2 separate regions of the Homo sapiens genome follow, and region 1 is linked to region 2. A link means that fine-mapping ties the variant in region 2 to the expression of a gene that starts in the linked region. Tissue or cell type: subcutaneous fat. Region 2 holds a variant in brackets; the other region holds the start of a gene. All regions are shown on one strand. Distances are between the middles of the regions.

Evidence for each region. PIP is the estimated chance that this variant, and not a neighbour inherited with it, causes the effect.
Region 1: CDR2 starts here. The variant in region 2 is fine-mapped to the expression of CDR2 in subcutaneous fat (GTEx, PIP above 0.99).

The regions. Positions count from the first base shown.
Region 1 is chr16:22,372,047-22,377,193 of GRCh38, forward strand. CDR2 (cerebellar degeneration related protein 2) reads right to left here and starts at 2,573. Exons shown (of 5, transcript NM_001802.2): 1 at 2,185-2,573. The coding sequence starts at 2,263. CDR2-DT (CDR2 divergent transcript) reads left to right here and starts at 2,841. Exons shown (of 3, transcript NR_148970.1): 1 at 2,841-3,177; 2 at 3,281-3,514. RefSeq lists a silencer at 2,106-2,335 and enhancers at 2,876-2,955, 3,296-3,345.
Region 2 is chr16:22,670,801-22,675,947 of GRCh38, forward strand. No RefSeq gene overlaps it. Among named protein-coding and RNA genes, the nearest start is that of LINC02890, 60 kb to the left of the region's middle. The variant G/C (reference allele first, on the strand shown) is at 2,627.

The DNA.
Region 1 (5,147 bases), 300 kb before region 2:
TTTAGTGGAGATGGAGTTTCACCATGTTGGCCAGGCTGGTCTCGAATTCCTGGCCTCAGGTTATATGCCCGCCTCGGCCTCCCAAAGTGCTAGGATTACAGGCATGAGTCACTGCGCCCAGCCCAGACCTGTGTTTTTAAGGTTAAACTTGAAGAGCTGATGACTTTATTTTGATCAGAGGTTAAAGAGAATTCCTCGTGTAACCCTGACACGTTGCACTTGCTGCTCGGTAGATTGAAGTGTTACAGCTGTTGTTCCTAACAACCTCCCACAGCGGGAGAATGCAGCGTGGACTAAGGCACCTGATGGAAGAGAGCCATGAAAACAATTCTGTGCGAGTGCTTCAGTGCAGTTCAACAAATATTAAAATCGAGCTTCCAGTATGTGCCAAGTATTATGCTAGATGCTGGAAACACAAGAAAAAAGAACCTGCCCCCTCTATGCCCTTAAAGATTAATGCTTCTTAAATACAGGAAAGAGAAATATTTAGTTGTGATGATACAAATTAAATTATAGGGAAGTACTGCAGTGGTACAGTGGTTGCCTCACAAATCCTGGAGAAACTATCAAACTAGGCCATCAATCCTTACGGGGAAATCTGAAAACAGGTTTGTTAATATGTATAATAAATTTGTCTCTTGGACATAAAGAAGATGGTGCCAAACACTGCACTGCAACCACTAAGTAGCTTGGACTCTGTAAGTGTAATAAAGGTGAATTACTTTGGTTAAAGTGATTGCATGTTAATTTAAGAAATTATCTTCCTCCAAAAGAGGTGCTCATTTTATTTTCCTTTTCTGAGTTATTCAGGTCTACATTCTTTTCTTCTGCCATGTTCAGTGGTTAGCATGAACAAGCAACATGATCATTTAATATTCAACTAAATGAGATGTTAATTTTCATTGCAAGATTAGAGCTGAGAGCATTTACACAGAATTGCAGAAACTGAAGATGCCTGGAAAAATTCCTGAGGATTGTTCAGTACTCAGTATAGCGGTTAAGAACGTTTGCTCTGGAGTCTTAAGGAGAACCCTAGCACTCCCCAACATTACTACCTCTATTGTGTTACTGGGAGAATTAAATGAGCAACTGTGTTATGGGCCTATCAGTGTTAGGCACATAAAAAGTGTTCCCCAACTGCTAGCTCCTGCTATTAGTATAAGAAAAACAGGGGCCCCACTGGCCCCAAAGAGTGGGCTACTCTACGATTGTTCTCTGGAGACACCATCGGCAGGCCTGTTTCTAAGTGAAAGCTGGCGTGCAAACTGAAGAAAAGTGGCAGAGATAGATGCGCTCTTTCTTCTGTCGTTTCAATTGGCATCTGGTGAACTATGCCTAACAGCTTAACGCCCAACTGAAAAAAACTGTAAACTAGGATGGTAAGGAAGAGATGGGGTTTGAGCAGTGACTACAACTCTTCTTCTGAGTGTGTGGGTTCAAAAAACACTCCCTCCCACACTTAGCTTTAGGCAAGCCACTTTACCGTTTTAATCTCCGCTTTCCTCATATGGAAAATGGGATAACAAAAGTGTGTAATTGGATTGTTTGTACCTCAATGGATAAATGCTGGGATGGACGCCCCGTTCTCCATCACGTGCTTATTTCACACTGCGTGCCTGTATCCAAACATCTCATGTACCCCACAAATATATACACCTACCATGTACCCTCAAACATTAATTTTTAAAAAGTTACTGTCTCCTGGAGTTACGGTGCGGAGCGCACAGCTCCCGCTACGCCGCAAAACAACTACCACCTGCAGCAGCCGGCCCTCCACGCTGGCCATGAAAGGCGCTGGGCTAGACAGCCTGCGACGGGGCGGCTTCTCGGGCTATGCCACTTACTGCGGGACACACTGGCTCACCCGGGTCTGCCTCGGAGGAATGCAGTGAGGATTAAACTAGCTAATCCACGGAAAGCGCTTAAAACGGTGCCTGGCTCGTCCCTGGCCCCCACGCGCCTCGGGGCTGATATTCAACTGCGCATTAGCAAGGCCGTGGGCCCCGTGCCGAGGCTTCCTGCGGGCGGGATCCGCGGGCACGGCCGGCCCAGCCGCCAGGTGAGCCTGAGCCCTTCCCGGCACCTGCATCCTCCGCCGCCACAAAAAGCAACTTTTTAACAGTTTCGCAGCGGGGGCCTCCCGGGCCAGGCCGCCGCCCGCCCGCGGGGCGCCCCCGCCCTCACCTTGCTGGAGGTCCTGGTGGTCGTACCACGGCTCGTCCTCCTTCATCTCAAACTCCTCTACCAGGTTTTCCGCCAGCATCTCGGCTGGGTCTTCTAGGGGCAGCGGCCCCCGCCGCCGTCCCGCCTCAGCCGCTGCCCCGGGCTCTTCCCCGGCCCCTCCGCCCTCAGCCAGAGCCGCCCTCGGGCGGGACGCGCCGCCGCCCAGACTCCGCTGCGCCGCCTCAGCCCCGTTCCCGCCGGCGGCCGCCGACCGGCCGGCTGCCTCGACTCGCCTCGCGCCTACCGACGGCCCCAACGGCCGGGCATTACGGTGCGAACGCCTGGAGCCGGAGTCTCACGCAGCCGCCAGTCTTCACGCCGCCGCCGGGCCCAACGTGGCACTTTGGCAGAACCCTCCCCGGCCGGGGATGCGATTCAAACCCCCGGCGGCGCCTCAACCAATCGCGAGCGGGCTGCTGGCCGAGCGGCAGGGACTTCGTCCAATCGCCTCTCTCCAAAGACCGGCGGCTCGCCCGGTATCGAGGGCAAGCAGCCAATGGTGGGTCCGGAATAAACAAAGAAGGCGGGGAAAGAGTGAAGGGGTGCGGCCGAAAGCCCGTCCCCTGATCTGCGCTGTGAGGCTCCTAGGAGGGCGTTCTGGGTTTCGGGCTGGGGAGCTGGCAGAGGCGCGTCTTACCCCTGTGGTGGGTGTCCCGAGGCCGGCGCGTCTGTGGACAGGCAACGCAGGCCGGAGGGCCTAGGACTCCGGCCTCTGAGAGGCGGGCGGTTGTCCAGGGGAGTCCTTCGTGCCGGCGGGAAGCGCAAGGGTGCCGGAAGCCTGAGGTCCGCCGCCCGGCCACCCCTTCTCGCATCTTGACTCTGAGATTTGCTCCGGGTCCGGCGGGGAGACTCGAGGTCGATCGGGAGTTTGGGTTGAGAAAACGCCCACTGAGCGGTAGCTCTTGTCTCCTTGACATCTGAGCCCTGGGAATTAAACTCACGCTACATAAAACGGTGGGCACCAGACCCCCTTGAGAATCTGGGGCGGTGAGGGATGCCCGAAGCTGTCCACTTGGAGGGCGAAAATTGTAAGCAGTGTTGCAACGATTTTTAAAAGGTACCCCTAGACCACAAGTTAAGCATCTGGGGACGTGACATTGCACCTGGAGGGGACAGGCTGCAGCTCCAGCACTTAGTAGCCAGCGAGGCAGAGCACGCTGTCCTCCACCGACATAACCCAGCAAATACTGCTCCTAGGTAAAGCTTTAAGCACCATCTTGCAGACAAAGCACGGAAACTCTTAAGCAGGATGACAGACCTGAAGGTCAATGTTCTCAACCTTGACGTAAAGGTAAAGGTGCAGCTGATGGAAGACAACAGGGCCAATATCTAACTAACTTTGAGCAACGAAACAAAAAAAAATCGAGGTTTAAGTATACAATTGAAAGATTATCTCTAGAACATGAGGTAATAAACTGTTAGAAATTCAGAGAGAGGGAAGAGGTGGAGAGGAGTGTTAAATCCTGATCTATTTTAGAAGTGAGTCGACAGATAATACCTTACATTGATAATCCAATGAATAGTTTCCACAAATATGGAGAGAGCTGCCAGAACTAAAAATGGGAAGCAATTAAGAGTTTTCCGAGGCTGGACACGGTGGCTCACGCCTGTAATCCCAGCATTTTGGGAGGCCGAGGCGGGCGGATCACCTGAGGTCGAGAGTTCGAGGCCAGCCTGACCAACATGGAGAAACCCCATCTCTACTAAAAATACAAAATTAGCTGGGCGTGGTGGCGCATGCCTGTAATCCCAACTACTTGGAAGGCTGAGGCAGGAGAATTGCTTGAAACCCGGGAGGTGGAAGTTGCAGTGAGCCGAGATTGCGCCATTGCACTCCAGCCTGGGCAAAAACTGCGTCTCAAAAACCAAACAAAAAAAAAAAGTTTTCCTAAGAGGAGGAGTGATTTGAGGCTGGGGACTTTGGCTTTTTGTTATAAACCCTTCTGTGATCTTGCTTTTTTAGTTACTTGCACATTAAAAATAAGGGAAATTGTAGGGAAGGAATTATAGACTCAAGCTACTTTTTTTGTCTTTCTGTATAAAAAAAGACTTGGGTAATTTGGAAGGGGGGAAAAACTCATCCTGAATAATTCTTGTGGGTAATAAAATTCAGGGTGTCTCTCTGCCTCCCATCTTTGCTCAAACCAGCATAACCTAACCTCACGCTGATGCTGTATCAAACAGCACTTGACTCCAGGGTTACCTTACACATAGGCTGTAGGCTACTCTGGAGAAGTCTTGCCAAGGACAAGACCTCCCACTGTGGAGTTGTTACCTGAAGTTTTACCCTTCAGTCCTTAAAGGAGACTGCTGAATAGAGTGGAAAGCACAAGGGACCTAGAGTGAGAAAACCTAGAGTTCTCGCCATACTCAGTACCAGCAGAGAAGCCTTTTAGCAAACAGTTTACAGGAAAGATGATTGTTTGCCTTGCTCACAGAGCTATCTGAATCAGAGAGACCCTGAAAGCAAGTATTTTGTGCTCATTTTAAATGTAAGGCTGTGTTCTTGTGACCTATACTGTAGAAGTGCAGGTACCCTTGAGGACCAATTATGAGCATCACAATAAATAATCATAGTAATGGATTATAACCCATTGAATAAAAAGGAAAGAATCCATGAGTCCATACTGACATAAATAAATGGGAGAGAAAAGAAAACTTTCTTACAGTAGGATGCCAAGCAAAAAATGTAGAAGGAATAACACTGTTAGAAAGTAATAATAATAATAAAAGAGGAATGGTAAACTCACAAATCCCTTTCTTCAAAAAGGCAAAATGTTACTGGCACACCTGTAGTCCCAGCTACTTGGGGGGCTGAGGTGAGAGAATTGCTTGAGTCCAGGAGTTTGAGGTTACGATGAGCTATGATAGGTGACAGCAGAGCAAGACCCTGTCTCAAAAAAAAAAAAAAAAAAAAAAAAAAA
Region 2 (5,147 bases):
AGGTTCCCCAGCGTGAGGGTGGGTGCTGTTGCCTGAGGAAGGGGAGTTGTTTAAAACAAGAGGAGAAGCTGCAAGTAGACTACTAGTAACGAGAGAGCAGACCTGAGAAGCAAACCAGAAAAAGGGACTTCTATTAATTTGTCACCAGGACACACTGCCGTTTCATGTGCAATGCAGCTGTGCTTCAAATCGGCCCCCTGTGTAATTTCAAGGATAAATATAGAGCTTTTTCAATAGTTAAAAAAAATCTAATGGCAAGAACTAGATACATTTCTGTGCGTTTTATGAAGAAATTTACTATTTTTTTGAGTAGAGAATACTTGAGTAATATATTCATGTAGTTCAGAACTCAACATGATGCAAAAATATATACACGTGACAGTCTCATTCACATCCCATTCTCACCCTCAGGCTTATATGTAAGCACTTACTTGTTTCTTATATACCCTTCTGGTTTTTTTTTATTATTATTTATTTTTTATTCTGCTATAAGTTCAGATGAGTATGTATGAGTATATGAAAGATTTGTGCTGAATTTCCTTTCTGGATGGTGTTGGGGACCTGAGGAAGCCCAGGGGAAGTTGGAGGTCTATTTCATCAGCCTAGTAACACCTCTGGGATTCTCCCATTGACCCTAGGTCTTTTGTGGGGTCTTGGGTACACTACAGTCCTCGGCCCCCTGCTGTATTTCTGGGGGAAGGTCTCAGGCTTCCGGGCCTGGGAATAAGTACTCTTATTTCAATGGAATACTCCAGTTCTTCAGGCCTGGGGAATGTAGGAGTTCAGCTTAGTTTCCAGATTCCTCCCAGTCCTCTAGGGCAGGGGTCTGCAAACTGCAGTTGGAGGGCCAAATCCTGTCCATCACTTGTTTTTTTTTAAATAAAGTTTTATTGGAACACAGCCACAATAATTTGTTTACATATTACTTGTGGCTGCTTTTGCTTTATAGCAGCAGAGTTGAGTCATTGAGACAAAGATGGTACAGCTTTTGAAATCTAAAATATTTTTTATGTTGTTCTTTATGGAAGTTTGCCAGTCCCTGCTGTGAGAGCTGAAAAGGAAATGAGGACCTTGTTCTGGAAGTGCTTCCCAGTGGTTGGAGAAGCCCTTAGTGGCCCAAAACGAGGAGGCCATCACTGCAGAGAAGGAGCAGCTCAGTCAAAAGTCTGGGAGTCATCCTTGTCACCTCCTTTCCTTCATCCTATCCCCACCCCACATTCGATTCCATACCAATGACTCTTGATTTTTCTTCTCCAAAATATTTCTGGATTCTGTCCTCTTCTCTCCGTCTCCAGCAGCATCACTGCTTCATCTCTTGCCTGGACCACTGCAGTCACCTCCTCAGCCCCTTTCCTCCTGCTTTCACGGTGAGGCTGTTGCAATCCATTCTCCACCGAGCAACCGAAGTCATCCTTGCAAGGTGTGGATCTGAAAATCCTTCAATGGCTTCCTGTTGCACTTGGGATAGTGACCCAAAGCACAATCTGGCCTCTGCCCACTTCTCCGGAGCCCTCTTGTGTCATGCCTACCACCAGCTCTCTCTGCACTCTGGCCACACTGGTGGTGCTGGGCTCCTCCGGAACAGGGCTTTCCCACAGACTATTTCCTGTGCCCACATGCTCCCCACTCTTCCTGCTTTTCCAGTGAGCTCCTTCTCATCCTTCAGGTGTTACCTTGACCATCACTTCCTCTGACAAATCTCTCTTGACGTCTTTTACTGGGTAAATGCCCTCATTACAGGCTGCTGCAGCCCTGTGTCCCCATTCTCCTGAATCGTGTTGAAGTTGCAGTTCTACATGTATGTGTGAGTGTGTGTGTGTGTGTGTGTGTGTGTGTGTGTGTGTGTGTGTGTGTTGGTCACCTTCTCCATGAAGGCAGGAACCCACATCTGGCCTTGCTGACTATGGCGTCCCCATTGCCTAGTATAGTGCTTGGCACATAGACCCTCCATAAATATTTATCAAATAGATAAATAATGAATCTTACTCCATTCCAGCCATTTCCGGGTATGGGAGAGATTCTGCTCTGCTCTGCAACTTGCTGAGGTTTTAGGTGCCAAAGTCTTAACTTCATCCCTTGAGAACCACGTTTAACAGAGTGAGTTGGCAGAGCCAACCTAGCCTGGTGTTGATTGAATGCCACTTTGAGATGGCAGCTGCTGTATTTCTTCCAGTTGGTGTCTCCAGCCCCAAACAGGGTGTACACGACAAGCTTTTCTCCAGACTGTGTCTTGGAGATCTGTCATACCAAGAGGGATGGATGCTTGTTCCATTTGCTTTTCCAGCTTCTCTGCACCTGGTCTCCCCACAACCCAACCAGTGAAGATGCTAGTGAGGAAGGCAGACAGGTGTCTCAGCGCCTTCCCCATCCACACCCCCACTAGCTGTTAAGTATTCCATGGGATCCAGACAGAGAATTTTATTTGTTTTTCTGGACCCAAGCTGCCCCTTGACACAGCCGGTGATTGCTTTTTTTTTAAAAACCACGAAGGAGAAACTAGGTTTTTTCATATACTGATAAGGTGTCAGGTGACAGAGAGATCAGCATCCCAACACATAAATCTGCAACTAATCCTTAGAAATCAATATTTTTCATTAAGAACCTGTGAGAGTTGGACCATTATGGG[G/C]AAAATCTGTTTAGGTTGACACCTTGATGAAGTTATTCAGTTCAGGGGCTTAAGTCATTGAAAGGTAATAAAGAGCACGGAGCAATCTTGGGACTGGTTAGGGGAGAAAACGATGGGAGTATTTAGCTTCAGTTCAGTGAAAAATGACCTCCTGATTTATTGGGGAATGATGGGGTGCTGGCCTCTTGGGCAGGCTGAGCCAGACACCATGCACATGGCAGCCTTTCACTCTCACCACCTCTCCTCCCTCTGCAGTCACTGCTGTTTATAAGCTGCCTGGCAATAACAAAGCAGTAGGGATATATTTAGAGGGTTTGGGAGATTTCCAATATTCTCTAAGTCCCCACCCACATAATGCTCTTTCACATTTTGGACTTTCTCCTGTAGGTCACAAGGAATGGGGGTATTTAATTATTCTAATAGTTTAACAATGAGATTGAATTCACTTTTGTAAAATTGCCTTTATGACCTATTAGATCTGAAAGGACCCAGTTCATTGTCAGAAAGAACCAGGGTTATTCGAAGCCAATCCCTGGTATCGTCAGGATCAAAAGGGTAGCATCAAATATTTCCTCGTGGGTCTCAATTGTCCATAGACAATCACATTGGATGGGATCTAGGAAGTACATTTTCTTATCTCTCTCTCCTTCTCTCCTTTCTTTCTTTCTCTTTCTTTCTTTTTTCTTTCTTTCTTTCTCTTTCTTTCTTTCTTTTCTTTCTTTCTTTCTCTCTCTCTCTCTTTCTTTCTTTCTTTCTTTCTTTCTTTCTTTCTTTCTTTCCTTCCTTCCTTCCTTCCTTCTCTCTCTCTTTCCCTTCCTTCCTTCCTTTCTCTCTTTCTCGCCTCTCCTTCTCTTACTCTTTCTTTCTTTCTTCCCTGTCCATGATCCCAGATCCATCTTTCTCCAGTCCTCTGTAATCAATGCCAGATGACAGCCATTCCTGATTTTGTCCTGGGAACTGCATGGTGGATTCTCACATTCTTGGAGTAGACCATTTAGAAGACAAACAAATCTCTGTCTTATGACTATTGATTCCCTCTCAGCATAACTTTCATCCATTTATAAGTGCTGGCAGCCACGCTGCATGGAAATATCCCTTTGGTACCTTCTTGAAAGGTCAACAGAGTGCTGCAGCACAGTGTTTTAGATTTGATGAAATATGATATGATTTCTGATTTAATACAGTTGAAAGATGTCCTGTCTGGGTGTGAGGCTGAGGAAGTATTCAAGTGATGAAAGGTACAGAGAGTCCCATTCCACTGAAAAGCCACACTGGCAGCTGGGTGGGATGTGTGTGGGCAATTGCAGTAGGGATAGTAAGAGGAGGGTGGATTCAAGAAAGAGTTAAGAATTCAAATGGATAGGAGTGCTAACAATTTGGATTAGGAATCCGTTCATGTGTTGAGCTTTCACTACCTCCTCATCACTTAGAAAGAGTGGGAGGAAAAAGAAGATAAGAAGAGCCAAGAAGGGAATTCAGATGAATGTCAAGAACTAAGGCACAAATAGAGGCACAGTCAGAGAGAGAGAGGGAAAAGCAGAAGGGAGTGGAGTCAGGGGAGCCAAGGGTGGAGAAGGACAGAAGGATTGACCGAGCCACTGTCCTCAGAGGTTGTGTAAGATCACTACTCAAAATGTCTATTTCGCTGGGCAAATATGGTGTTTTCTATGACCCTACTCAGAACTGGCTCAGTGCGGTGATGAGAGCCAGAGAGCAGTGGATGGAGGGGTGGGTAGAACTCAAATCCTGGGGCTTCTCTCTTGCTGTGTTCCACAGAGCTATGTTTCCAGATATGTCACCCTCACAGAGCATGATGTGAATGGCACTCCTGGAGGTTCTGGATGGAAGTGGAGTCCCTGAGCATAGACTACACTACTCTTGAGTCTCTTGGCTGAGAAGAGAAGGGAGGAGGCAGTAGCTAGTGGGGAGTATCTAGCTCTGAGGGGATGGTGGTGGTGAAGAGGCATCCATTACTATTAAAAACAAAGAGGGGCCAGGTGCGGTGGCTCACACCTGTAATCCTAGCACTTTGGGAGGCCAAAGTGGACAGATCGCCTGAGGTCAGGAGTTCAAGACCAGCCTGACCAACATGGTGAAACCCCGTCTCTACTAAAAATAGAGAAAATTAGCCTGGTGCAGTGGCACGCACCTGTAATCCCAGCTACTTGGGAGGCTGAGGCAGGAGAATCGCTTGAATCCGGAAGGCAGAGGTTGTGACGATGAGCTGAGATCGTGCCACTGCACTCCAGCCTGAGTGACAAAGCAAGACTTTGTCTCAAACAAACAAACAAACAATAAAACAAACAGGGCAGGAAATAAATGAAAGGGTGGGATCTAGAAAAAAAATGGGGAACCTAACTTTGTACAGGAGCCACCTGTCTTCCACTGAGCAGCAGGAAAGGGGATAAGTGTCCACCCATCCCTAGCTCTTTAATGGAGCTCGTTCCCTGATACAACATACGCTGGGATTCTGTTGGGCTCAGTCTTTTTCTAGATCACAGTTGCCAGGCCAGACCAGGAA